4 separate regions of the Homo sapiens genome follow, and regions 1, 2 and 4 are each reported to be linked to region 3. Evidence: microRNA targets listed by miRTarBase, many of them from high-throughput screens and not tested one by one. Region 3 holds a microRNA gene; each other region holds the end of a gene's coding sequence.

Region 1 (7,101 bases), not on the chromosome of region 3:
TATGATGACCAGCTGTTCTTTTTTTTTTTTTTTTTTTGAGTTGGAGTCTCGCTCTGTCACCCAGGCTGGAATGCAATGGTGCAATCTTGGCTCACTGCAAGCTTTGCCTCCCAGGTTCACGCCATTCTCTTGCCTCAGCCTCCTGAGTAGCTGGTACTACAGGTGCCCGCCACCATGCCCGGCTAATTTTTTTTGTATTTTTAGTAGAGACGGGGTTTCACCGTGTTAGCCAGGATGGTCTTGATCTCCTGACCTTGTGATCTGCCCGCCTCGGCCTCCCAAAGTGCTGGGGTTACAGGCGTGAGCCACTGCACCTGACCGATGACCAGCTGTTCTTACGATTGAAGAAGTTGCTATCTAGTTTGGAGGCTTAAGAATTTCCAACCAGTGTTTATCCGAGTTATTTTTGGCTGCAAACCCAAATATAAAATTTCACAATTGACAATTCAGGAGGCATTCTTTTCTTTTTCCTTCCTGCAGGTTTAATAGACTACAACTTCCACTGTTTCCGAAAAGCTATTCATGAGGTTTTTGAGGTGGGTGTGACTTCTCACAGGAGCTGTGGTCACCAGACTAGTGCCTCCAGTCTGAAAGCGCTGACACACAATGGCACGCCACGAAACGCCATCTAGTCTGAATCCCAGCGTCGGGGCTCTGTGCCAGCTTACTCTTCACTCCAGGGTCGGATGCCACGTGCTACAGGACATGGGAGCTGCTGCTTGTGGGAATCTGGTGCCTGTTCCACTAGAGACAAGGGGTAGAGTTTCTCATTTGGATGAAAACCCCTTCAACTGGTGGTGTACAACTGAAGCTACTATATCTTTTTTGAAAATGGCAAAAAAAAAAAAAAAAAATTCTGGAGACCACAGAACTCAAGTGTGTGTTTCTCCTCTTTTGGGTCCCCTTTAAGTAGTTGGGATATTTTGGACCTGGAGATAACACCAGTTACCCATCCTTACCAGGGAATGTTGCCATCAATTCCAGTTGAAAATAATAGAAAAGACTGAATTTTTATATGCTTCACTTAGGCTTTCATTTGAGTAGACTCTAAAAATTCTGCCTTGCTTAAGTTCTAACACTGCCTCTCAGATTTCAGTTTTGGACATTGCACAACTAAGACCTTTTAAATGCATTTGCTTGCTAACTCGGAAGACACATAGTCTGCAGCAAGACATTCCTATATTGAAGAAATGAGAGAAAATTTTATGCTGCATCAGGTGGAGAGCAAGGCTCAACGGTGGTTGCATTAGTTCCCTCGGAAGTATTGAAAAAACTTTGAAATGGAAGAAAATTTTTGCACCTATGTTCTGAGTACCAGATGTCTGGGTTCTTTCTTCTGCATTAGATAAATGATCATGCTCAGTGTAACAAAGGGAATTAAAAGTTTTCCCACAGTCCCCTTCTAGGGGAGAAACTCATTGTGTCACTGAAATGTTTAGCTTACTTTAATCTTGATATCAGCCTCTACAGACCTTTTATTCTAAGCTATCGAGCTTCTTGATTGCATTTGGTTGACCACGAGTGACCCTAAGGCATTGGGGGACTGTCCACTGGGAGTTGGAGTGAGCACGTGGTGCTGCAACAGGCATTGTTTTACATACTTTGTCTCTAGTATTCTGACACCAAGTGTCAACTGTGGTACTTTCTTTGCCTAGGATATGAATTCATAATTGTTGCTTTTGTTGATGGTTGATACCCTTTCCATTGATTTAAACCTAACACATTATTTCTATTCCACATGCCCAGTAGACATATATTCCAAAGCCACTGGACCACTTGAGTACATAAGTGCCACTGTTTAATGCAATATGTATATTCAGGTCTGTAAAGCTAACAGTGTGACTTGGAGTGCTTCCTGCAGGTGATTCTGACTTGAGTATTTACATGGACCATGGTGATATCCAAAAGAAAAATGCTTTTTATATTTATAGATTATTTCATTGAACTATATATGAAATGGGTATCAATAAATGTATTTACTCCAAAATCAGCGTTTCTCCTTGCCTGAGGTATGGAGGGTGGTGGCGGAACGTTGGGTTGTCCCACTTTGCCGTTTTCTCATCCATTTCTTTTTCTTTTGCTGCTTCCTGTGGTTAATGTTTCTTATGTGTCAGAGCTTCAGGTTCTATCCCGATGTGGGAATTTCATGGCCTTGTGTCTAGGTATCTCCCCTGGCCCATTTCTGCTCTAGGGTAGTAAATCTAAGCTCAGGTGAAAATGTTTTTGGTTGGGTGTTTCATATACACAAATCTCACACATGGTGGGGAGTATCCTGGTCCTGGCATCATTAATGTGTTAATCCAACCTAAGAAGGAGTGAGGAGATGAGTGAAGTAAAACACACTTAAACAATTGTACCGATTCCAGCTTGTTTTCTGTTTCCTCCAGTTGCTGACATACTCATTGACTCACTCTTAAATGTCAGTTAAATAATTGTTTGTCTATACAAACAGGTTGGGTCTAAACTAATCAGAGAAAAATAGACATTAGTTTATCAGTGGGAGGAAGACAGATTGAAAGATCTTTAAATTTTGTAATTGGACTACTTTAGAAGCTGTTTTAATTCTGAAATGGAAATCACAGAAACAGCTTGAAAAAACTCTTGTGAAACTATCTAATCCTGTCTTCTTTTTCAGATTTTGGAAACAGGTGCAGAGGGATAAGGAGCCTTGTTGAGGCTGTAGCTAGGAAGACTGTATAACTTAAATTCCAGATACTGTTGAGAGTGGAAGGGATGCCATTAGTAAGGATGCCTGAGCAGCAGGTGTGAACTGGCACTGTTGAGGGTACACTAAGGGTGGCCAGCCTCATCATAGATCTAATTAGTGGCAAAACAGGGCTTGTCCTCCAGGCCTGGCAGCCCAGCGTGGCATGCCTTTACTTGCAGCCTCCGGCCTTAGGCTCCCATTGGTTAAATGGAGAGAATATTTCAAGATGCATGTGGTACATAGATGCCCAATAAATGTTATGTTTTCCTGTTACTGAAAATTATAAATTCAGTCAGTGATTAAGGAGAAGTCTTTAATTGTGAAATAGAAAGTAAATGTGAAAGGAGACAACTCAGGATGAAGAAAACGGAGAATAAAATGATCAGGGTTTTGCTTGAAATGTTTTGCATCCCAGTGGATGTTGATCTCTACCAGTCTACTTCAAAGAGAACTAGGACAGATGGTTAAAAAATACCTTAAAGTCTTAAGCAGCAAGGTATTTTAGCTATTTCACATACCACCACCTCTCCCATTCACATTCATATATACACACACATACATATATGCATGTATATAATATCTCAATATAGAATGCTGGAGGTATTTGGGAGTTAATTTACCTTCTACATCTTGAGTTCTGTGTGGAGAAATGATTTAAAAGATAAAATCAAGCATTGTTGGAGAAAGCACTGTGTGTGAATTTTGGACTTTGGTAAGGATCTCTATCCTTTGTTTTGCAAATGCTGAAAGCCCTTCCAGTTATTCAAAAGAGATTATTAGTACCACTGTTTTCCATCTAAGCTAGTAAGTAAGCTAGTTAGTTTAAATGCTCCCCCTGTCCCTCTTGGGGGTCCCAAAGGAACATAGTCTGTAAGGGGAATGTGGACAGCAGCTGGGCATAACTGGAGAGGTTTTTTTTTTTTTTTTTTTTTTGAGACAAAATTTCGCTCTTGTCACCCAGGCGGCTGGAGTGCAATGGCGCAATCTTGGCTCACCGCAACATCCACCTCCCGGATTCAAGCGATTCTCCTGCCTCAGGCTCCTGAGTAGCTGGGATTACAGGCATGCGCCACCACACCCGGCTAATTTTGTATTTTTTCGGTAGAGATGGGGTTTCTCCATTTTGGCCAGGCTGGTCTTGAACTCCCGACCTCAGGTGATCCACCTGCCTCGGCCTCCCAAAGTGCTGGGATTACAGGCATGAGCCACCGTGCCAGGTGAGTGTTATTTGTTAATAGTAACTTCCCGGAACGGTACATTAGGATACTTTGGATACAAATAACATCCAAGAAGGACTTGAAGGGAAAGCCAACCACCACTAATTATTTTAGGTGGTTTACGTGTATTACCTTGTAATCTTCACAACTCCTTGGGAAGTAGGTGTTATATTCCTATGTTACAGAAGGGGAAATAGATACAGAACGGCTCAATTGTAAAGTGGTAGAGTTAGAATGGGAACCCATGCAGTTTGATTCCATAACCTGCAGCCGCAAACTACCACTCGACCTTCCTTTCCTAGTAGGGAGGGCGAGTTTGCTCACTGGTGTGTTTTGAAAGAAAGAAAACAACAACAACAACAAAAGGATTCTATAGTTAAGTTTTGGAAACTTGCAATCTGTAGTCTCTCTTTGGAGATTTTCTACATACAGTCAAATATGAAAGGTTCTGAGAAGACCTGCAATAAGGAAGCCTGTTTACCTTGGTTTATATCCCATGTTCCTAGGTTTATTTGACACATTAAAGAAATGCATATTCATTCAATCAGTGTGTAATAAATTCACAGTTTTGAAATGTTTTCATGAGATTGGAAGTATGATTTTTACACTGTTTTCCAAGTATCTTAATACAACCATCACCAAACTGGTTTCTTGGATGGCTAGTTCAACACCTGTCTTTGTAGGTAGTGAGCAGGAAGCATATTTAACTACTCTGTAACATTTCCTCAGTATCTTTACTCATTTAAGCCAGATGTGCTGCGAAGCACAGGCAGCTTGTCTACCTTTTCAGCCTGTTTGGTGATGGTGTCCAAGTCCTTAGTGTATGGCCTCTAGGTGGCAGTGTTGTATTATCTAAACACAGCTTCTTGCTTTCTGGCTTCTGCATGTGTGCTCTGTCCTGAAAGTTTGTATTGCCCGTATCACCTAAGTGCACACCTAACTTAGAGATCCAAAAAATTCCTGAAGTATTTTCCCTAGGATAACATTCAGGACTGATTTGAGACATCTTATTGGAAGTGGAGCAGTTGATGATTTCCACTTTTTAGTGAGGGGTTGGGTAAAACGAAGGTCATTAACATCATTTGCTTTATGTATTACTAGTTACAAAAGGGCCTTAAGACAGCTGTAGCCACATTCCTATAGCAGGCAGAACTTCTTGCTTCCTCTTCTAATCCATCTGTTGTAAATGTGTGTGGTCTTCAAGACTCCATGGAAAGAAATGCCACATATTTGAATTAAAATATCTGTTTTCACCACTTTTCTTTGTGTCAAATGAGGTTTGTTGAAATTATTTCACACTTATGCTTGAGAGATAAAATATGGCAAAGGAAAAGGCTGCAGAACCTTATCCTTCCATGGGTACTTATTTTTCCTTTTTTTTTTTTTTTTGAGACAAGGTCTTGCTCTGTCATACAGGCTGGAGTGCAGTGGCACGATCATAGCTCCCTGCGACCTCAACCTCCCAGGCTCAAGCGATCCTCCTGCCTCAGCCTCCCGAATAGCTGGGACTACAGGCATGCACCACCATGCCTGGCTAATTTTCTTTTTAATGTAGAGATGAGGGTCTCTCCATGTTGCCCAGGCTGGTCTCAGACTCCTGGGATCAGGCAATCCTCCACTGCCTCAGCTTCCCAAAGTGCTGGGATTACAGGTGTGAGTCATTGCTCCCAGCTTGTTTTTCTTTCTTCTAGAGCCATGTAATTGCTTCACAATCCCCAGCTGTGACTTTGCTCTGCAAAGACAAATTTTAGTGTAAAAAGAACTAGATACACCAGTGCATCTTCAGACCTGTTTAAAATATAATTGAGAAAATTGCAAAGGACTGTTATAATGAGGAACTGAATGGCAGGAAACTAGTTGTTCCTCCCCACACTTGAAAATGCCAGTTACTACCAACGTGTTGCCCGCAAAGTGCTGCAACTTCCACTTTAAGATTCTTACACTTTAAAATGCATCTTTTGAACTGATCAAATATATATATTTGTTATTGTGTGTTTTGTTTTGAGATGGAGTCTCACTCTGTTGCCCAGGCTGGAGTGCAGTGGCGTGATCTCGGCTCACTGCAACCTCCACCTCCTGGATTCAAGTAGTTCTCCTGCCTCAGCCTTCTGAGTAGCTGGGATTACAGGCGTGCACCACCAGGCCTGGCTAATGTTTTGTGCTTTTAGTAGAGATGGGGTTTCACCATGTTGGCCAGGCTGGTCTCGAACTCTTAACTTCAAGTGATCTGCTCGCCTCGGCCTCCCAGAGTGCTGGGATTACAGGCGTGAGCCACCACACCCAGCCTGGACTGATAAAATATTAGAAGGCATGTGGGAGACAATTAATTTGGTTTATTACAAAGTAACCTGCCGAACAGACAGGAACTTGACTTAGAGAAATGGAATATTAATTTTCTACAATATTCTTTTTGCTTTTCTTTAAAAAAGAGGTGCTGGCACACACATTTTAGCAAATTGTGAATATTCCTTCCTTTCTTTCCATGGCCTCTCTCTTATCTCCATGCAAATTGGCATGCAAACTTTGTGTTCCAGGTAATGAGGCTCCAGACAGGGCCTATCTTTCTCTGAAAAGCAGTGCTGGCATGTTCTGTACTGAGGCTTTTTCCCAGAAAATGTACTGCCTCTACAGCTTTGGAAGATGAACTGAGAAATAACGCTTATAACCCTACCAAACATTTCTCGAATATCTGTCTTGACTTTGGAAAGGGAGCTATTGGCCATTTCCATGCTTGGAGGATTCTTTTCTTCTACTGCACTGTAGTTCTTCCTGGCTAGATGTCTAGCACGGAGGCTCCTTGGACTAGTTCCTCACATGACCCCTGTGGCAGTCTATTGATGGGAACGGGACAATTGAGAAAGGCAGGCAGGCTGTCTGGCAAAAAGAAACTCATTAGGGTCAGGGGCCACAGGATCTCCATGGAGATGTTCTCTGGACTACTAGAGTGTTGAGGCTGGATGAAGGGGAAGAGGGCTGAGCTAGAGATCGAATTGGCATACTGAGTGGGAGCAGGGTGGGGTGGGAGGCAGAACTGGGCCTTAGGGAGGGCCTTGGTCAGTCAATGGAAGGAAGACAGCTGGAACAGAAGTTAGAATGATTCATGCAGTGAGAAGGAAACCAGGTAGAAAGGGAGGAATGCTCACCACTGAAATGTCTCTTATTTGTTGAAATGAAATT
Region 2 (7,118 bases), not on the chromosome of region 3:
GATCCCTATCCTTTTCCCTAAGTCGTTTGGGACACAGACCCCACCACCCACCCACCAGGATCCTGCAGGTCACCATGCCCCACCCCTCATAATCATTTACTAGGTCCTAGGAGTTGTGCCCACTGAGTTCCTCCTGAATCCGTCTCATTGCAGCTCTACAGCAGGCCCTCACCTGTCCCTCTGGACAATTGCAAACCCTCACAAGGCACCTCTGGTCTTGAGTCTTTTCCTCTTTTCCTTTCCCAGCATCCTGCGTACTGTCTGCATGGTCATGCCTCTCCCAAAATCCTTCAGGAGGAAAGTCCAAGCCCTTAGCATGGTTCACAGAGATGTCCATAATCTGCCGCTGCTTAACTCTGGGCCCATTTTAACTCCCCTTCAACGTGCTGAAGGTGCTGGACATGACTATCACATGTCTTTGGTTGTAAACTGCTGTGATAGTTACCCTAAGTAATGGGACAGGAGATGAACCCACCCATTAAATAACACAGCAATTAAGCAGCCACTTTTAGAAAAATTTAAATGTGTGGCTTCGAGTTGGGTACTTGCATGTACAGCTTACTCTCAGCTTTTATCCTGTTTCCCTGTCCTGTCGTCCTGTTAAGTTGTGCTACTTCTAAGGCTCTGGTTCACCAGGACCTCAAAGGGCAGCTCTTCCAAATCTCACCTGACTCTACTCAGCCAAAATTCGAAGGCAGGAATGAACTTCTTCATGCAACTACCACCACACTTTCTATGCGTATTCCTCTTAGAACTCATACCAGTAACTGTCTCTCATATGAAAATTTTCTGCTCCAAAATCCCTGCAAATTTGGCATTCACCTCTCTACGGGATTGTTGCACACCTTTCTACATAATGCTTTGTGGTGTATCTTAGGGAGAGTGGTGAACGTATCTAGCATCATGAGCGTCAGAGCCCTTAAAAGCTGCAGCCCAGAGCTGCAGCAGAAGTTCCGCAGTGAGACCATCACTGAGGAGGAGCTGGTGGGGCTCATGAACAAGTTTGTGGAGGATACAAAGAAGGGAGTGCACCAGAAGGAGGGCTGGCCCAGCAGCGCATACGGGGTGACGAAGATTGGCGTCACCGTTCTGTCCAGGATCCACGCCAGGAAACTGAGTGAGCAGAGGAAAGGGGACAAGATCCTCCTGAATGCCTGCTGCCCAGGGTGGGTGAGAACTGACATGGCGGGACCCAAGGCCACCAAGAGCCCAGAAGAAGGTGCAGAGACCCCTGTGTACTTGGCCCTTTTGCCCCCAGATGCTGAGGGTCCCCATGGACAATTTGTTTCAGAGAAGAGAGTTGAACAGTGGTGAGCTGGGCTCACAGCTCCATCCATGGGCCCCATTTTGTACCTTGTCCTGAGTTGGTCCAAAGGGCATTTACAATGTCATAAATATCCTTATATAAGAAAAAAAATGATCTCTTATCAATTAGCACTCACTAATGTACTACTAATTGAGCAACCTACGCACTCAGTTGACTACGTAAATCTGTCAGGTCTTTTGTGATTTCCTCTGATGCAGGAGAGGAAAAATTGTAATTGATGAAAATAATGAATGAAAATCAACAGATGAATAAATGGTTCTTTATAAGTGTCCATTTGTACAGATTGTTTAGATGCTAAATAAGCTTTGTCTCAAGTACAATCAACCTAAAAGGTCAAGGGAAGGGACAGTACAACTTGGGGGTGAGCAAACCCAGAAAGTAAAGAAAGAGCCAGTTAGTCAATATTTTCAATGTTGTAGGTCAAACAATGCATTGGAACTCCCCAAATCCACATTATGTAACAAAAGCTGACAGCATGTAAGCCTGTGAGCATAGCTGGCTCTGGCCCTTCCCAGCCTCTAGGAAAACAAATAGTACCACAACGGCAAAGGCAGCTGACCTGGTCTCTTTAAAAAAGCCAAAGTCATTGGGGAAAAACAACCAGTTGCTATGTGTGAAACGTGAGTGTGCACTTGTGTGAAACACCGAGCTGATGAGGGACCTATCAGATCTCCATAGGAATGTGTTATTTATGTAGGGATGAAGTGTCATGAGGTGTACAACATATGCCCCAGGTGTACAACATGTGTTTCAGCAAAGTATACAAAGACTGATGAACAGGTAAGGCAAAAAAAAAACAACTTTTCTGTTTGTTGAAAGCTTTCAAAACCTGGGGGTTGGCAGTGGAAACTTCTGGCTCTGCCCACTGAATTCCTGACCTCAGGCAGAATACTGTATCTGGCTTTGTCTCTGTTTCCTCAACTGTCAAATTGGGATGACAGTCATAGGATTATATGTATTGAGATAAAGTGTTGAGAACAAATTAGCTGGGTGTGATGGTGGGCGCCTGTAATCCCAGCTACTCAGGAGGCTGAGGCAGGAGAATCGCTTGAACCCAGGGGGTGGAGGTTGCAGTGAGCCAAGATTGCACTACTGCACTCCAGCCTGGGCGACAGAGTGAGACTTCATCTCAAAAAAAAAAAAAAAAATAGTGTTGAGAACAGCCCCTGCTGTCATTAGTTCCTGTAAATGGGCCTGACGCTGTCCCTGCTGGTAATGAGAAGTGTGTGTTTACTGTCTAACACCCAGTAAATGCCCAGGCCATTCTGTTTCTTCCACAGAATCACAGTGTTGTGATCTCTCACACTTCACCAGTGAGAATTAAGGCTTACAGAAACAAAAAGCGATCACCCGTGAAAAGAAGGAGAGGCCCCTTATTTTATTTTTATCTATTTATTTTTTAATTCTCCAAACTGCTTCGGAAGAGTCCCTTATTTTATTTATTTATTTATTTATTTGTTTGTTTGTTTGTTTGTTTATTGAGACAGAGTCTCAATCTTGGTTCAGTGCAACCTCTGCCTCCTGGGTTCAAGTGATTCTCCTGCCTCAGCCTCCTGAGTAGCTGGGATTACAGGCGCCCGCCACCATGCATGGCTAACTTTTGTATTTTTAGTAGAGACAGGGTTTCGCCATGTTGGCCAAGCTGATCTCGAACTTCTGGCCTCAAGTGATCCACCCGCCTCGGCCTCCCAAAGTACTGGGATTACAGACATGAGCCACTGCACCCAGCCTAGTCCCTTAGGTTAAAAGTGAGGTTTACTTTGACAAGTTTCACCTTTCAGTAGGGCTGTTCATTTCTTCCTAGTTTTTGTACACAGACACCAGAAAACAATCACGTCTGCAGCAAAACTGGTATTCTCAAGTGCTAGTTTAGAAATTTGTACCTGTATTGCAAAGATATTTTTCCCTTAATACCTTAAAAATAACACCTAACTTCTTTAAGAGATTTAGAGAAAGCATTGTTCCAAATTCAAGTACCTGCTTACCTCTGAGGGTGAGGGGAGGAGGACATACGTGGTTCCGTCTTTATTGCTAAGGATTTCTTTCTTATACCAGGTGATAGGTACATGGTGCTAAAATACAATTTTCAGAAAAAGGTAAAATCATGACTGTCATACAGATGTAAAAATAATAGTCAAAAAAATGTATTTTACTCATAAGGGAACCAGGGAAATGTTATAACTGGTTCAAAGGAAAAGCTAAAAGGAAAAGCTAACAGATTATATGGAATCAACAAATGTTGAGCTGAATTGCAAATGACGACAAAACTGGTGTTTTTACAGGGAGGAGGACGTCAATTCAGTCACCACTAGACAGGACAGCACTTGCACCTCTGTTACCTACAATTAAGAAAGAGATGCAAAATATCTCAAAGAATGAACAGGGCCATAGTTCAATGCTACGAGTCTTGCCTTGCAAGCACCCTTCACTCTGTTGTGTGAGTCTGGCAAAACACCCATCCCCATGCTTAATAACCATGCCAGCCTGCTCTAGCAGCTCTTAACAGATGATGTTGCTAGGGAGAAAGGAAACAAGAGGCTGACTGTACTCTTTTATGTTCCCACCCCAATCCCAAACAGACAAGCAATTCTCCTAGCCAGTGTTGTCTTTTCCCCTAGTAAATTCACTCTCCTACTCTGTAAGATGATTATTCTTTCCGCATATCTCCCAGACTGATCGTGCTGGAGGATGTCCTCAAATCTGTTCCCTAAAAAAGAAATAGATGCCCCTGAGGAGAGTCGTTCAACATACCTGCAACCAGACAGCACACCCTGCCCCCCTTTCCGTTACAAGAAGAGGCACACTGCTTCCCAGGCAGCACCCCCACCAGAGTCCTGGTTCGTCCATTATTGCCCTCCCAAACATTTTGTTCTTGTAATTATTCCCTTTCTTTCCTTCACCAAATTCACCTCTCAGATTACCATTGCATAAAAACATGCTTTAATATCTCTCCCAGCTTTTAAAACTAAGGAGTTGAGTCACACAAAGTATATTCTCCGACCACACTGGAATTAAGTTAGAAATCAATAGTAAGATGGCTAGAAAATCCCCAAATAGTTGGAAACCAACAAAATACACTTTCAAACACCCTTAGTCGAAAAGATATCAAAAGTTAAGAAAACAACAACAACAAAATTTTTTAAAGATATTGAAAGTTAAATTCAAAAGTATTTTGAACTGAATGAAACTGAAAACAACATATCAATGTTTGTGGGATGGCACTAAAGCGGTACTTCGAGGGAAATGTATACTACGTAATGCCTACACTAGAAAAGAACTGTCTCAAACAATGACCTCAGCTTCCATGGTAAGAAACTAGAATAAGAGCAAATGAAACCCCAAATGAGCAGATGAAAGGAAATAAAGATCAGAACAAAAATTAGTATAATCAGAAGAGAGCAATAAAGGTAAAAAAAAAAATCAATGAAGCCAAAAGCCGGTTCCTTGAGGAAAAACAAAAAGTGCTAAACCTCTAGCCAGAGAGATCAGAAAAAGAAAAAAAAAATGAAAGACACAGATTACCAATGTCAGGAATGAGAAGTAGCATCATTATGATTAATAAGAAGATAATAAGGGGTTGGGCACAGTGGCTCACACCTAAAATCCCAGCTCTTTGGGAAGCCGAGGCAGGTGGATCACCTGAGGTCAGGAGTTCAAGCCCAGCGGGCCAACAGGGTGAAACCCCATCTCTACTAGAAATACAAAAACTAGCCAGACATTGTGGCAGACACCTGTAATCCCAGCTACTCTGGAGGCTGAGGCAGGAGAATCGCTTGAACCCAGGTGGAGATTGCAGTGAACCGAGATCATGCCACTGCACTCCAGCCTGGGCAACAGAGTAAGACTGTCTAAAAAAAAAAAGAGCATTTTACTAACAACCTCAAATCATTGGAATTAACAACTTACATAAAATGTACACATTTATTAATATTTAGAAAAACACTAAGCTCACTGAAGAAGAAATGGAAAACCTGAATAGCTCTATGTCTGTAAAGTGAAGTTTCAAATACTCTTTGGAAAGAAAGAAAGATTGGTTGGGGCATAAAGGGAACCACACCCAGCAGGTGCCCAGCTATTAACTTGACTTTGATAGAGAAAGTGGACTCGGTGGCAGGGCACAGGCAGTTCAGCCAGATCTGCTTGAGTAAAGCAGAGTCATGATGAGATGGTGGCTCTCTGCTAATCTCAGAGTCGCTAATCAAACACACTCAGATCAAACACGTGGGTTACAGTGAAGAAGACGAATGAAGGAATCCAATTGCCCGTCTATACCTTGACACACCTTTGACAATTCCTTTGTTTTGTGGGTACACATTTCATGGGGAGATGCCATATATTTTACATATTAACTGTGACTTTGGATAAAACAAAAATGCAGACACTTTTAGCAAACGGGTTATGTAACAATTAGATAAAACATTCTAATAAATGGCTTACGGCATAGTAGGAGCTTCATAAACATTCTCTCTCATTTGAGGGCATACTAGGAACCACACAGAGATTGCCTGCCCATGCCTGGAAGTCTAATTACAGGACATCTTTTTTCTCTAATTCTTAAGTTTCAGTTTCTCTTAAGAAAGGGGATGTATGTCCTGAGAAGCACTTAGTGTGTAAATAATTTCATTGCATCTTAAGATAAAGCAAACATCTGCATTTTGCAGTGGGTGATGGGTGCACATCCAAGAAAATTACTTGGCACATGTTTTCCTCCCTTTGGGATTCTCCCAAAATAGTTTTAATTCAACTGTCACCTGTCTCAGGCCCCCTACTGACCCATCACCATCCAGTTTTGCTTTCAGAGAGCCCGACCTCTTAGCCCTGCAAACCATTGCTTGGCTCTGTTAGGATCAAAAGAGGGATGTGTCTTGGCATGACCCAATACACAGCTCATGGAAAGGGTAGACCCAGGAGTGGGGGCATTAGGAAACTTTCTGGAACATTCAGCCCCTCGAGTTGCAGCACTGGAATGCAGAACTTAGCTCTGCTGTACAGCCCAGAGCAACCATGCCGGCCTGCAGCCATAAGGCACCTTCAGGCTGCAACAATTCCGAGAATTGACGTCTCTGTACACGCAGGTCCCAATACCACTTATAATGTGTACGAGGTGTTAGTCTCAGATAAACAGGACTGGGCACTTTGGCTGCAAACAAAGCAGCATCTGGTGGGACACACGGAGGCACAAGGAGGTACAAGAGGAGTTGTTCATGACACGGGGTCAGAATCCATGCCTTCCATTAGCTGGGCTACTTACTCGGATCTCCATAATCCCAATATAGGTGAGAAGGTGTCTATACCCTGTGAAGTATAATTTTGGCAGAACAAGGTACATTTCTTAGGATATGGACTATCCCAGGAAGTCCATCCCTCACAAGGATTTACCATTCGGAACTGCCCAGTCCTGACACTAAAAGACAACACAGGAGATTTAGGGTCACACTAGCTATTGCAGAAAGTCAGTCCCTAACTTTTCTGTAATCACCACAATTCTATAACTTTCAGTCATCTATGCCAGAATTCCCATTTTTGGGAACAGTAATAGATTGAAGGCTGGCTGCCAAGAAGATATGTCCATGTGTCAGAATCTATGAATATTTTCTTTGGAAGAAAGATTTTTGCAAATGTAATTAAGGATTTCAAGCTGAGCTCATCCTGGATTATCTGGGTGGGCCCTAAATCAATGACAAGTGTCTTTTTACAAAACAGAGAGACAAGGCAGGCATATGAAGACAGGTTGATTAGAGGGATGTGGCCGTAGCCCCAAGCCAAGGAAAGCCTGCAGCCCACAAAAGCT
Region 3 (7,118 bases):
AGGCAGCCGTCCTTCTCTGCGGTCCCCAGCGGGTGGGGCCATTGCCCAGGTTTCTCCCCGCTGACCTCTGGGGCTACTTTTCTGACCTCACCCCAATCTCTCTCCTCCCTAGAAGCACATTCCTCCCCCAGAAAACTGAAACCAGAGCTGCAAAAGTAGAGAGACAGGTAACCAGTGCCTTCTTTCGGGCTCCTGTTCGCCAACCCCAGTCCCCACAGCAATCCTCCAGAGGTGGCTCTGAGAATCTTCGGGGGCCAGGCACACACCTGCCCCTGGACCCAAGGGCAGTACCCCCTCGGATGGTCCCTGGCAGCTCCCAGCAGGGTCAGCACAGGGCTCAGGGACCCCCACAGCCATCCGGGAAGGTCCGAGGGCCTCACGCTCTGAGTGGGTGGCTGCAGTCCTCCGCGCCCGCCCACAGATGTACTCGAGCTCAAGTGCCAGCCCTGATTCCTGCCGAACTGGGAACCTGTCCTCCAGGAGATGGGGCAGAGTAGGACAGGCGTTGAGGCCTTGGCTCCAAAGCTGGGGGCTGGGGGCCCTCTCTAGGTCCCAGACCAGTGCCTTGGGCCTCTCAGCCCACGATGAAGGCTAGGCTCTCAGGGCCCAGCCAGGCACAGTTCATAGCCAGCTCTCAGGGTCCAGCCAGGCACGGCTCAGAGCAGGTGAGGTGGCCTGCATGGCACCGCAGTAACAGGCCCTGGTGCCAACAGAGCCCCAACAGGGCTGGCAGGGGCCCCTCCCACTGGCCTGATACCCCTCCTGCCTCTGTGTTCCCAGAGGAGCTGGGGGTGGGCAGTGATGGGGGAAGCCTCAGGCTGGAAGCTTCCTGGGAGGGGGCTTGAGATCTGATAGCTCTGGAGGGACCCGCACCCACCACCTAGGCTCCAAGACAGAACTGGGAGGTCCTGAAGCCTGGCCATTCACCCCCAAACTCCCCAGCACGTCCGCCCCATGTGAGTGGTCGGCCTAGGACCCTAGGATGGGGGCAGATGAGGCTGTGGCTGAGGCCCTGCCTGCACCTGCACTCCTGGGTCAGCCCCACCCCTCGGCCCCTCCTCGCAGCCTGAGTGAAAGGCTAATTCACCACCCGCCCACACGGGCCCCACCAGCGCCCCTCCTCCTGCCATGCACAATGGAACCCGTGTCCCTGAAGGGCTGGCGCTCAAGGGGGCAGGAATCTGGGGTCAAGCATCCCTGGACTGCAGAAGAGCCCCTGCCCCCAGCACATGGCCATGTCCAGGACCAGAGAGCCCGCACCCCTGCCCCAGTGCCCACCCCTGCCCCGTGCCCACCCCTGTCCCTGTGCATAGCAGCCCCTTGGGCAGGGGAGGCTGGAGGCCGAGGGCTGTCCTGGACCCTGCCAACCCCTGGCCGGCCCCCAGGCCCAGGAGAAAGAGGTACATGCACCTTTGGCCCCACAGTGCGGCCTGTGACGCAGCCACAGGGAGTCCAGGGCTGCACACTGCGTCTACCCCACAGGCCACTCCCAGCCCTGTGCTGCCCCCACTCCAGAGCTGAGTCTTCCGGTCTCCCCAGATCACACCCAACGCCCAGCACCTGGGCCCCGGAGGGAGGCCACCCCATCTCCCCACCCAGCCCTCACCTGAGCGCCCAGGCTGCTTGGCCATGGGCAAGGAGACCTCCGTGAGTGGCAGGACGTACACGTCGGGCCCGTTCTGTGCTGCCGTGGCCGGGGAGCCCTGCGCCAGGTCGGCTGCGTACTCGTCCCCCTCCGCATTCTCAAACTCCTGCGGGCCGGGCCGGGCATGAGCGGGGCTTCTCGCAGGTCAAGGAAGGGTGTGGCTGGGCCTGGAAAGGCCCCTTTCTTCCAGGGCCGAGCTCCCAGGGCAGGGCAGGAGGGGGTGCTCGGCCCAGAGTTGGAGCCACCGCCCCTGCAGGCCAATGGCCCAGCACCCCTGCTAACTGCCCTTCCATCTGTCTCCTCTTGCTGACCCCCACGCCCCCGACCAGAGGCTCAGTTGTTCCATGAGGGGCCAGAGGCAGATCCCAGAGCCAAGAGGACCCATCTCAGACTCCAGAAAGGGCGCGATGAGCTGTAGGCACCAGCGCCTCAGCCTGGCCTCAGTTCCCCCATCCCTCCCTGGCGGGCAGCCCAGGCTGAGCCCCACCTTGGGGCCTGAGGGTCTAGAGGCAGGGAACCAAGGGACAGAGGTGAGGGCACTCAGGCCAGCTGGCCCTGCCCATCCAGAATCAGCCCCCAGCACCTCTCAGCCACCCACATCCCGAGCAGCCCCTCACCCCGGGCTGTGCCTGGGGTCCCACCCTCCCATGGCGCAGCTTCGGGGACAGGAATTCCATCACCCCCTGCCCCACAGTCCTGTGGGAGAAGCAATTAAGTGCCCCCACCCCTGCCGGGACAAGGAGCATTCCTGGATGTCTGGGAGCCCAGAGCCAACCGGCCACCTTTACCCTGGGCAGCCCACCTGCCACCGCCATCTGCCCCAGCAGCCTTGGACCTTCACCTGGTGGCCACACCACCTCCGGAGCTCCCAGAACTCCTTAAGAGCCTGGCCCCGTGCAGCCTAGGGCTGGGCCACTCCCTGCCAGGCTGCTATTTTGAAATGTAGAGGCTGCACCTGTATAGGGGATACCCCACCCCCAAGTCCAGGGCACATTCCTGCGCTGAGAGCCAAAGTCTCCAAAGTCCTGGGCCCAGCTGAAAGCAATTGCTCCAGGCACACAATGACAGCCCCAATCCCTGAGCACTTGGTACAGCCTTTCTGTCCTTCCTCACAACCCCCAGTGCCCTGGTGGGGAAGCTGAGGCTCAGAGGAGTCAAGGGACTTCCAGCTGGATGCTGGCCAGCACCCGGGCTGGTGAGTCCGAGGACAGGCAGGTGCAGTGGGAGGGGAGGCCTGGGCTCCTCAAGTACGACGTGTGACCCTGGGGACGCCTCCCTTCCCTGGGCTGCAAAGAGAGGGGCAGGTGGCTCTGTCGGTATTCCCGCAGGCCAGGCCCAGCCTGCCCTTTCGGAGCACACAGCCACTCAGGGATGGGGGACGCAGGTGCTGCGTGGGCAACTTCCCCTCCCCGGGACCCAGAAGACCACCCCAGAAGCCCCCTCTTGGGCCCTCCAATCCCAGCCCCGGCCTGGCCCCACCCATCTGGGCTTTGTAGAGGGGCCCAGGACACAGATGCTGTCTCTCCCTGGGGTCGGGCCCGGGCTCCAGGCATTACCTGCTGCCCGGGGGCCAGCCGGGTCCTGCCGATACAGCGTGCAATCAGGTAGCACAGGGTCAGCATTGGGGGCCTGCCCAGCCCCTTCCCTCAGCACAGCTCCCCACCAGGGAGCCCAGCGCAGGTCCCCAAATCCCAGGAGGGAGCCCAGTGTGGAGGCAGGACTTCCCAGGGGCACACTGGTGCTGGAATGTTCCGGGCACCATGTTCCCAAGGAGGTGAGGAGGGCGCAGGAGGAGGAGCTATGGCCAGCCCTTGTTTGGGGCCTTGTTCTTACAGTGCCCCAAGGAGGGGCCACTTATACAATAGCCCCACTCGTCCCACCCAGGCCCCACCTCCACTCCTGCTCCCGCCAAGACCTTGAGGCTCTGGCCTCGGGATCCCCAGGAAGGCGCCTGCGCGGCCTGGCCTGGCCCCTGGTGCCAGCGGGTCAGGGGTACATCCCAGAGCAGGGTGGGGGCTCTGGGCAGGAGTGCAGACCCCACAGCCTGGGGCCACAGCTTTGCCCCCCAGGCACGCAGCTCCTCACTGGTTGATGGGGCCTGTGGCCACTTCAGAGGGCTCTGGAAGGTTGAATGGGCTGGAAAATGTGGCCTTTAGAAAAGGCAAAAAGGCCACATCCAGCACCGTCACCTGCCAGGCCAGCGGGACAGGTGGGCAGAGCCAGCTCCTTGGCCCATTCTGCGTCATGACATACCAGGGGCAGGGAGGACTCTGGGACTGTCTCCCAAATGGGGGTGGCGCCAGCTGAGTCATGGGTCACTTAGTAGGAAGGCACCCTGAGATACAGACAGGGTGCTGTGCGCGCTGCAGAATGCCTCCTCCCACCCTCCTCCCTCCCTGACTTCTCCTGGCGTAGGAATCTGACCTCTGGCCCAGGGGTGGGGCTGACCCCCGTGGGCGTGTGAACCACCAGAGGTCCAGGCCAGGGTGTCATTTGCTCATCAGCAGGAATGGGACCCATGGAGACTCTGGGAGGGGGAGGCGATGCTGGCCGGGGTTCCTTCTGCCTGGCCCTCCCTGCTGCTCAGAGTTACAGCTGGAGGTGGGCTGGGGGTTTGCAGGGGGAGGAGCAGTGCTTGGCACCTGTCCTTGGCCAGGGGCCTTGGCCTCCAGAGGGGCAGCCTAGTGAGGCCAGGCCTCACCCTTGGCGGGGCTCCCTAACCAGCAGGCTGGGCTCTAGCATCACACATCGTCCCCTCCAGAAGGCAGAAGATACCCCGCGCAAGGTGACTCCAACTGGCAAGAAGGTCCCTGTGCCGGGAAGCTTGTCTGGGCAGCCCGGACTCCCCTTTGCAGATTGAATTCGGAGGGACGTGAGAGCCCCTTGCAGAGGCAGCTCCTCCACCAGGAGTCGGGCCTCTAGGGAGGCAAGCCCCCTCCCACACCAGCTCCAGAGCCCCCGACGCCCCCTGCAAGGCTGTCCTCAGCCTCCGTGAGTGCTCGGGCCCAACCCCAGGCTGGAGTGGGAGCGTCAGACCACGCCCCCCACAGAGGGCCTCAAAGTCGAGGAAGCTGGGGCAGGTCCCTGAGGAGGAGCTATGGAGTCCCTGGGCCAGGGTCCACGTGGTCCCCAGGTGGCCCCACAGCAACTACGGCCACCCAGCAGCCACCTTGATGGCCCCAGGAAGGAGGGAAGCTCAGGGTCAAGTGGACGCTACAGGCCTTGCCTGCGGGATCCCACGACAGCTCCCGCGGCCCCCAGGCCTCACCTTGAACCCGATACCGCCCTTCTTACAGCACAGGCAGGCCAGCATGAGGACGATGACGGCGAAGAGCCCGGAGAAAGACACAGCCACCACGGCGAGGGAGGATGGCCAGGACAGCTCGCTGAGCGGGGCGCCGTCTGCGGGAGAGCAGTGTGGTGAGAGTGGCCATGGCTGAGGGCCGGCCAGGCCCCTGCCCCTGCTCTGGGCTCCACAGCCCCACCTGGACTTGCTGCATTCCAGGCTGGGCCTCAGCACCCTGACCTCTCACCCCAGACCCCACACCTCACAGTGTGGCGAGGAGGTGGCCAGAGCCTGCAGTCCTGCAGCCAGCCACTGGACACCACCCTGGCTTCGCCAGGGGGACATAGGGTTGGCAGAGTGACCAGAGCCTGCCCAGTTCCCAATTCTGGGGTTCAGATACCCCTGAGAGGTCAGGGTCTCAGGGGCTACAGGGGGACCCCCATCTCCCTCCCAGATCCCAGTCACCCCACCTTGCCCCTCTGGGGCTGGGAAGGGAACATGGACTCTGTCAAACACGGGAGACCATGTTGCTGGCTGCTATCTGCTGGCCACACACCAGGCTCTGGACAGCGGGGGCTCAAGGCCCTTCCAGCCTCTGAGGTGCGGGGACCTCACTGTCCCTGAGAAGGTGGTGCTGCCTCTGCCAGGCAGCAGGGCTCCCGTGTGCCACCTGCTGCCTCGAATCCGTCCCCTTGCCAAACCCACTGCCAGGCCCCTCTGGTGCTGCTTCTGTCCTGGGAACCATGGGGAAACCCCGTTCTGCAGCTGCTGGTCCATGGAGCCCCTCATCCCAGAGGGGAACTGACAGTACAGCATCCCTCCCAACTTCGGAGTATTGAGCTGAGCCCGGCTTCCAAATCAGGACACCTGAGCTGAGCCAGGCTTTGAGGAAGCTCGGTCCATCTGCTGCCCACAGGATGGCATGGTGGGGGCCAGCCTTGGTGTCCCCTGGGCAGGGGAGGGCACACTGACCCGCTGGCTCTATCCCCTGGGCCTGCCCCGTCCCACCGCACCCAGCTCCAATCCATGCCCTTCCCTAGGAGCTTTCTGTCCGGCTGCCCTCCACTTGGCCCTGGAGATTTTCCGGCCACCCCCAGTGCCTTTTGCCACTGAGCACCTGCAACTTCTCAGCTCCCAACACCCCTCAACACCCCATCTCCTGGCCCAGCACACCCCCAAAGGTGTTGTCATCTCTACCCCACTGGACGAGCCAAGAAACAGGGTCAGTGTGGGCAGGGCTGCCCGAGGTGGCACAGCTGACCTCACCTGGCATGCTCTGCCAGGGCTGCAGGCTAATGGGGCATCTGGGAAGGCTGCCTGGAGGTGGCGTGAGCTAGAAGACAGTGAGGGCAGCCTAGGCTTCCTGCTCAGGTCTCCAGGTTGTTCCCCACACACGAGGAAGAGGGAACCAGGACGGCTTGGAGTGAGGACCAGACAGGGCCGTGGGGACAAGGAGGCAGGGGGCGGCCAGCAAAGCAAGACCTGGGTCACCGGGGAAGGAAACCAGCTCTGCCGCATGTGGAGACGAGCCAACGGGTAGGGCCGTGAACAGATGTCATCCCAGGCGAGGTTTCCAGGATGTGCGGGCGTGCGTGTCATGCGTGTAAGGACACCCTGCACACCGGGTAAGCCCCGCTGTGTTCTCATACCCGAACGGCAGGAACACAGGCAGGGGCTCACGAGGCACTCAACAGGCCCCGCCCTCCAAAGCAGCCAGCGCTCTTCGGAACTGCAAGTTGCCATGGTGCCCATCTCCCAGGCTCCATCTGGTGCCCGCCTGGCATCAGTCCACACCCCTCTAACACCTTCGCCCATGCCCTCCTGGCCCCTCTCCTGGCGGGCCCTTCCCTCATGGGACACACTGGATGAGTGAAGGAACCTATCTGTGGCCTTTTGGGGCCAGGATCTGGCCTCCTGTCCTCAGAGCCAGCAGAGCCCTGGGGCTGGACAGGCCACCTGCTGGGCAAAGAGCAGCCCCAGGAGGCCCGACCTCAGCCTCCCCCTCAACCTCCCCTTCGGAACCAACCTCGGCCACCCTGGGCTCCCCTCCCATGGCCCCATCCCTTCCCTGGTCCTCCCCCGAATGGAGGCAGCTGGCCTCAGCCTTCCCACCTCCAGGACCCCACCTCAGCTACCCTGGGCTCCCCCCAGCAGGACGCCATCCCATGCCTGGTCCTTCCCCGCACT
Region 4 (7,118 bases), not on the chromosome of region 3:
GAAACAAGAGTAGAAGGGGCATGGAAGGCAGAAGATGGTCTTAGCTGGGACGTGGCGCAGGGGCTGGTCTCGGGTCAGTGTGTGTACAGGACAGACTGTGTGCAGAGAAAAGGAAGAGGAGGAGGGTGGGCGCAGTCAGGCAGTGTCTGTAGCCATTATTTATGGATGCTTCACTTGATTTTAGTCTCCAAACCTGGGCTCGGCATGGAGACTGAATGTCCCTCACAGCTGCTCCTTCCTGCAATAACAAGACTGACATCACTGTTGTCAGGGAAATGGTGTTTTGATTAAAATCATGTGACAGCTACTTGGTGATTCAATAAACAAATCCCCTGTTAACCCCTGCCTGACAAGGCCCGTCAGCAGCTTCAGCGGGGGCACCCTGTGTCCCGTCCAGGAGTGAGCCGCTGCCGGACCCGCGGCAGCAAGGTGTGGGAGGTGACCCTCGCTGCTCCCTGGCAGATCCTGCCTGGGTGGACACATGTGACATCCAACACAGAGGCACCTCCACAGACTTCAAGGGTGCCAAGGAGGCGCTCTTCACCAAGGGAGACTGGCTCTCGCCCTTTCCCTTTTCTCTTCAAGTGGCGGGCCCAGCCCCAGGGATGTCCAATGGCTCCCTGAGGGCCCTGAGGCTGGCTGAGAACTGACAGTTCCCAGGGCTCTCAACAGCAGCGCGCTCACGCTCACCCCATTCGGACAGATTGGCAAGTCCACTACGCACCCTAGACAGTGAGGGGTTAAGAACAATTTCTGGTTGCAATTGGATGACTTCCTGGATCACTCACTTGGCTGCTGGCCCCTGACACACAGGGCTCTGCCTGGCAACAGCCAATTCCCTTTCCATCTCACCCTCGGGTCATTTTCCTTAAGTGAAACAAATGCATGGAAGGCTCCCTGAGTCATGGGGCGGGGGATTTTTCTGAGTTAAATGAACTGAAGCCTCAGAGGCCTAGCACCACTGGGCCTCCTTTCCTGGAAAAAAGATTCCCAAATAGACATGCCAGGGGTTGGAGGAGATTCATGAGGGACCAAAAAACAATGATAGCACCTACCACCTAGGGTGGGTGAGGATGACATGAGATTTGAAGTGCCTGACAAGGTGCTGCAGTGACCAAGGCTCGAGTAACGGCAACTTATTCTCAGTAACTCCTCGGCTAGCAGAGGCAGCCCGGGCCCTGTCAGAGCTGAGCAGGTCAGCCATGGGAGGGCCGCCTCAATGATCCACACTCAGATCGGGTCATACCACGCATTCATGGCATGAGCAGCTGGCTCTGAATTTGTAGGAAGACGTAACCCCTTTCTTCCCAAAGAAGTCTGTGGTTTAGGCCTAAAAAATGTGTAACTGTCACTCCCACTCCTTCAGCCAAGCTCTCCTCCCTGAGGCCCAGTTCTGTGAAGACGACATGGACTCCAAGGGCTGGCCACCCCTGGAATCCAACTGGACAGTGGTCACCCAGCCCTTCCTCTCACTGTGCGGCCACTGCAGGAACGGCTGGAGCTGCCCACGGACAAGTGTGCAGCCCCTCAGGAAGGCAAGAATGTTCTAAGATGAGTGACTGCGATTCTGGACCTCAACAAAAGGCAAAAAACGTTTTCATGGTTTCGGTTCACATAAAATGAAAAGCCATGTGACTTAAAAGGCAGCCTTTTTGATGTTACTTCATTGAATTTTCACTAAGCGAACCTACTAGAATGGGTGTGAGAATGTCAGATTTTTCCCCATGAACTAAACGCAGTCTGGCATCCGCACGAGGCAGCCAAGCCCTGCTGCTCTCCTTTTCTGAATGTATCTGTAAGCCACAAATCGCCCTCCTAATGAATGGCCCTGGGGCAGTGGCTGGCACCCACTGACTGCTGAACTGGGGCTTTTCACACCATTTCCACACAGAGTGGCATCCAATGGGGCTTGTAGAACATCTGAGCTGTTACAGAGAAACTTGCAACTATTTTTATCTTGAATGGAAATAACTGAGAGGAATTATGGCAAGTCACTTCTATATTATGTGAGGAAAGTGGGAACAGCCCCTTTTTACAAGCAATTCTTCACCAAACCCCACTGGTGTCCTCTGTATGGGCCTCGCTGTTGGACTGGGAGGTGATAGGAGATGGGCCTCAAGCTACAAGAGTGACAGCTCTGGCCGGCGACCCACCTCTCAGAAAGCATTCCCAGAATGAAGTAAGCCAGCAACAGGCTTTAACCATCTACTCCCGGCCCTTAAAATTGGACTCTTCCCCTGGGGACAAAGTGAGAGGTGCTGCTTCTCCGCCTACCCTGTGGCAGCTCCCTGCACACCATGCCACCCTGGCTGCCCGCAGCCCTGAGGGCAGGACTTGACCCCAGGCTTCCGGGCACTTACCTTCCCCATGTCCTCTCCAGGCACTGTGGGTCTTGGGAAGTGGTTCTTGTCAGCCCGAGGGACACTGGGTTCTCCACTGTCCTTCACAGGAAATTCTAGCTTCCTCAGCCTTTGTGCCACCACTAGAGACACAGACAGTGGCGCTGTAACTGTCCCTGACCAGGGCACATCCCTCCCAAGCCCACCTGTGCTTCCCAGCCAGGATGCCCTCAGTTGTGCCAGCAGAGTTGGGTGTCCAGCAGCAGCCTACAAGTATATGGGGCACTGGGCAGAGAAAGCTGGGGCAGCCCAGGGTCGTGCTGAGGTGCCTTTCCCTCGGGGCCCTGGAAAGCGCCACCCCATCGGGCCTTTTGGTGTCCACCTGGCTGTTCCCCACATCCTGGTCACTGATGGTCTCCAGAGCCCCAACCACAGGAAAGACCTGGCTCCTTTCAGAACTCATATCAGTTTAAGAGAACAACTCTGGAGACAGAAATGGCTTGGCTTTCCGACGCAATGAGTAATTAAACTCTATTCGTCCTCCGGAAGATTTCCATCCCAACTGAACGTTATGTAATTTCCTGGAAACAGCAGGCTCGTGGAGGCAAACGGGGGACAGTGAGACTATTCTAGGTACAGAGGACTGGAGGGAGACATGCGAGGGAAGAGGAAAGAGGAGAGTAAGGAACTGGATGGAAACAGGAATACTGGAGAATCAAAGGGAAACAGTTACATCACATCAGACTGCAGTCACCTCAGCTGCTAAACCAGGAGAACACTGGGCAACAGGGCCTCTCCCTCTACAGTTTCATATCCAAGCAGTGGAGAAAAATAAGAAGCTTTACGATAAGAGTGTCACCATTTTTAAAAGTCAGAGGAATTTAAGTAAAAGGCAAGAGGACAGAACAAGCACCTGACCTGTTTGGCCACCCTGCCCTGCCATCGCCACAGGGACAGAGCCAATGTGACGTCTAAGGGCAAGCCCCAGCCTTTCAGTTTAGTGACAACACAACAGTTAACAAAGGAACAAAAGTGCACCAGGTTAACCGCCGGGTCAGGAAGGACAGGCTTGCTTCCCTGGAAGTCTACGCAAGCAACCTGAATGCCTGGACAAGCCAGCTCAAAGGTCAGGCTGCCGTCTCTGTTGAGTCAGGACAAGTTGTCTGGCAAAGACCCCTGGGGCTCTGCATCACAGTGGCTGAGCTGTGGTATTTCTGTGAGCTGAGGGCAGCCCGTTATTTCAACAAGACCTCGTTAGAAACCACATATTCACCTGCCTTCCTTCTTATGAAACAAGATGCATCCTCAGGTTCACATCTTCTTGGTAGCACAGAGAGAGAAACAAGACCTGGTCTCTTAAACCTGTGAGGGGTAAACCCCACACAAATTACAGAGAGAAACACCAAGGTGAATTCCACTGTTGCTGAGACATTTTTATTGGCATAGGTTATATGTTTGTGTGTGTGTGTGTGTGTGTGTGTGTGTGTGTGTGTGTGTGTCTGCTTCATTTTTCTAATCAAACAAACAACTGATGTAAGCTGCCAAGGATGAAAAACAACATTACATGTCTGAAGCAATCAGACAAATCCACACAGAACTGTAGTCTAAGCCAGGGGACCAGAAAAGGGCCACATAAAGCTTGTTTCCTGAAAGCAGGAAAATCTTTCTGTCAGTGGGAGAATAAGACACAGTCTGGTTCTTTTGATTATTTGTTCCATGCACACATTGGAGGATATTTTAGAAATTCATCCATTGAACACATTTTTATTGAGCACCTATTATGTGCACCAGACACTGTTCCAGGCACTGGCGATACAGTAGAAGATAAAACAGACAAAAATACCAGCCTTACAGAGCTCCTAAAGCCTATATTCCAGTGAAATCAAGATAGGAGAACTTTTCCCTTAAGTTTAAGGTAGTTAAAAAAAAAAATAGGAGAACTAATTCATGGAGAACATGGCCAAGTTATGAGCCAAAGCACAATTCCTCTGAAGAGTACCAAAACAAATTCTCTCTCTATTGCTTAAGTCAGAAGGAAACAATGAAACCCCTGAGGGGTCACCACAAAAGACAGAGGCCCCGCTGAACCCCCGACCCATGCTTGAGAAAGCCAGGGCCCACTCTCCCTCTCTCAAACAGTTTTAGGGTAGAGAAGTCAATGCTTAGGGCTCCTCACTGGGAGACACAAGGGCATTTTAAAAGTCTGTCCCCAAAACAATGGCATTTCCAACCAGAGTAAAGCAATGGTTCCAGTGCAAATCTGCTTCATGAAGACAAATGTCTCTCAAATATGAAATTCAATGAAGAAGAACATAACTTGCAGGTAACAAAAAATAAAGACTCATGAAACTAAAATTAAAATGTTTACAGAATAATAGCATAAGATATTAAAATGAGAATATAGAAAAAGATTTGTGCTTAGGAAAATACTTAATTCTTGGCCCAAAGTCATAAAATAGAAACTTACTATAAGGTAATTTGGCAGTTTAAAATGCAGACAGATAACCTCTGATTTACAATTTCTATTTTTCGAATGTAGGACAAATTTTAAAGTATTTAGTAAAACTTGGTTTTATGTAACAAATATACAAAGTCTTAGAGGAGTCTTTGGGCCTTCACTAAACAGAACAGGACTTGTTAGATTTAAAAGAGGTTGTGAACAAAATCAACAATTCAAAAACCAAAAGGGTAACAAGCAAACCTCATAGCAAGATGCACTGAGAGAAAAATAAACTATGGGAAAACCCCCTTAACCAAAAGTCATGAGACAAGGTGAGTTTGATTATGTGAAAAATAGTTGTTTTTTTTTGAGATGGACTCTCGCTCTATGGCCCAGGCTAGAGTGCAGTGGCGCGATCTCGGCTCAGTGCAACCTCTACCTCCCAGGTTCAAGCAATTCTCCTGCCTCAGCCTCCTGAGTAGCTGGGACTACAGGTGTGTGCCACCACGCCCAGCTAACTTTTTTGTATTTTTAGTAGAGATGGGGTTTCACCATGTTGGTCAGGCTGATCTCGAATTCTTGACCTCAAATGATCCCAAATAGGTGCTTTTTAAAAAGGGCTTTAATACTGTTTAAGTAGTTCAAATAGGCTTCCTCACTATTAATTTGCTTCAGTAAACTCTTCAGCTTAACTCATTATCTTAAATTTCAGAATTAATGAGGTTTTACTGTAAAAGTAGAAAAGCAAACACTTCAAATGATAAGACTCCAGTATCACCCATACTAAAAACTTAGCAATAAAACTGCAGTTTGAAAAGCTACTGTACAATGCAGCAAGGACTAGGTGTCAATACTGCTGGAAGCAGAGCCAGGTAAAGAACAGGAAATCTGCACAGTATTATCCCTGTGGTTCTTAGACTCATTCGAAATACAGAACTGCAATCTCACAATGAAACAAACATACTGCTTATTAGGAGGCACTACAGTTAAAGCTTTTTAGAAAAGAGAGAGAAGTATTTTTAAATGTAGGCACAGTGGTGAGCTGTTCAAATTCAGTTAGGCGTCAACATCACACATTAGCAGCAAGATGCAGCCACACTTCAGGTTTCTGAATGACATGAGTACAGACAAAATTGAGCAAATAAAAACCAAAACAACCACTACATTAACCCTGAGCTTCCACATTCCCCTTTCACATGAGACTAATGCAGACCATCATAATTCAGGAAAATGTGGCTTTCATTACGGTCAAATCTCAACATGTCTCCCGAAGAGTTTATAAAATAAGTTATTCTAAACATGTACATTTAGCTTTGGAATGATGGAGAGACACAGAGATATATGTAAACGTCAAGAGAATCACTCCACTCCACGTCTGGGTCCACACCCTTCCAGGCTTTGTCTGGAACATTATGTGGCTGGTGCCTGATTCCACAGTGAGGATGCAGGAGCCCAGGTGGTGATGGATAAAGCATTAGGAGACAATCAAGTGTCAGGAATTGGTCAATAAGAACGGCTTAAATAATGATTTAACAAGGAAGACGAGTAAAAAACAATCCCATTTCATCTTTAGAAAGAATTAAGTCACTAAATGATTTCTTCTAAGTTGTTGCCATTTGCTTGGATGAGATCTTGAAGGTTTTCCATTCTTTCTCCACCCAGTTAAGAACACATTGACTAGAAATTTGTGACAAGAATCTAGTAAAGGCCTTTTCCCTCCTGCTCCTCATTATGCCAATGCAAGAACTGGAAAATTCCAAACAAAATCAGGTTAGTGGTACAGAAAGTTCACGAACGATCTATGTGAATATTAAGCACAATAACAATGATCCAAACGTATCAAACTAACAACTTCTCACTGTGGTTACTGTCTTTACTCAGCCAGGCTAATCAGAAGTGAAACTTTAAAAACTGGTTAAATTCCAAACGAAAAACTATTCTTACCAGTGAGAATCGTATTTCCTACCCAGTCCTACATGTAACTAAGAAAAATAGCCTGCTCACTTATGAGAAAATGGTGGGCCAAGAGGGTTCTAATCAGAGAGACACCAGCATTCCAGGAACTTACTACCCTCCCTGTTTCCCATAATACTTATCATCCTACCCACTTAACACCTCTCACATAATAGAGATAAATCCCAGTTAACCAAGGCATAAGCTGCAAGGCAAAAGAAGGAAATACATACCACTTATAGCTTCCTGTGCAAAGTATTTGACATCCATGTCTTCATCTTGACCTAACTTCTGTAGTACTGGCTTCACTTCTCCCTGTAAAGCACTGACATTCAAAAGTATTATCTGTGAAAGACAGTCTAATGGGCCATAGAAATCCTTTTTGG

The links. Region 3 holds the annotated microRNA hsa-miR-1250-3p (ACAUUUUCCAGCCCAUUCA, at 3,774-3,792, opposite strand). A microRNA usually pairs through its seed, bases 2 to 8, with sites in the 3' UTR of a target mRNA and lowers its output. Matches are read on the target gene's strand: a 7mer-m8 pairs with bases 2 to 8, a 7mer-A1 pairs with bases 2 to 7 and ends in A, and an 8mer does both.
Region 1: the mRNA of RRAGC is a reported target of hsa-miR-1250-3p. Seed matches in the 3' UTR shown: 7mer-m8 at 828-834.
Region 2: miRTarBase lists CBR1 as a target of hsa-miR-1250-3p. Seed matches in the 3' UTR shown: 7mer-A1 at 1,414-1,420.
Region 4: the mRNA of PPP2R1B is a reported target of hsa-miR-1250-3p. Seed matches in the 3' UTR shown: 7mer-A1 at 3,844-3,850.

Annotation. Positions count from the first base shown.
Region 1 is chr1:38,833,084-38,840,184 of GRCh38, reverse strand. It overlaps RRAGC (Ras related GTP binding C), which reads left to right. Exons shown (of 7, transcript NM_022157.4): 7 at 481-1,987. The coding sequence ends at 632. Among named protein-coding and RNA genes, the nearest start is that of RRAGC, 23 kb to the left of the region's middle.
Region 2 is chr21:36,071,569-36,078,686 of GRCh38, forward strand. CBR1 (carbonyl reductase 1) reads left to right here. Exons shown (of 3, transcript NM_001757.4): 3 at 878-1,596. The coding sequence ends at 1,314. It overlaps CBR1-AS1 (CBR1 antisense RNA 1), which reads right to left. Exons shown (of 4, transcript NR_040084.1): 3 at 3,313-3,399. Among named protein-coding and RNA genes, the nearest start is that of CBR1, 5.1 kb to the left of the region's middle.
Region 3 is chr17:81,129,455-81,136,572 of GRCh38, forward strand. MIR1250 (microRNA 1250) reads right to left here and starts at 3,854; the gene lies at 3,742-3,854. AATK (apoptosis associated tyrosine kinase) reads right to left here. Exons shown (of 14, transcript NM_001080395.3): 2 at 4,914-5,047; 3 at 1,607-1,751. LOC124904079 (a long non-coding RNA gene) reads left to right here. Exons shown (of 4, transcript XR_007065937.1): 1 at 1-167; 2 at 4,942-6,153; 3 at 6,303-6,467; 4 at 6,592-7,118.
Region 4 is chr11:111,735,088-111,742,205 of GRCh38, forward strand. PPP2R1B (protein phosphatase 2 scaffold subunit Abeta) reads right to left here. Exons shown (of 15, transcript NM_002716.5): 14 at 6,966-7,057; 15 at 2,790-6,525. The coding sequence ends at 6,509. Among named protein-coding and RNA genes, the nearest start is that of PPP2R1B, 28 kb to the right of the region's middle. RefSeq lists an enhancer at 1-593.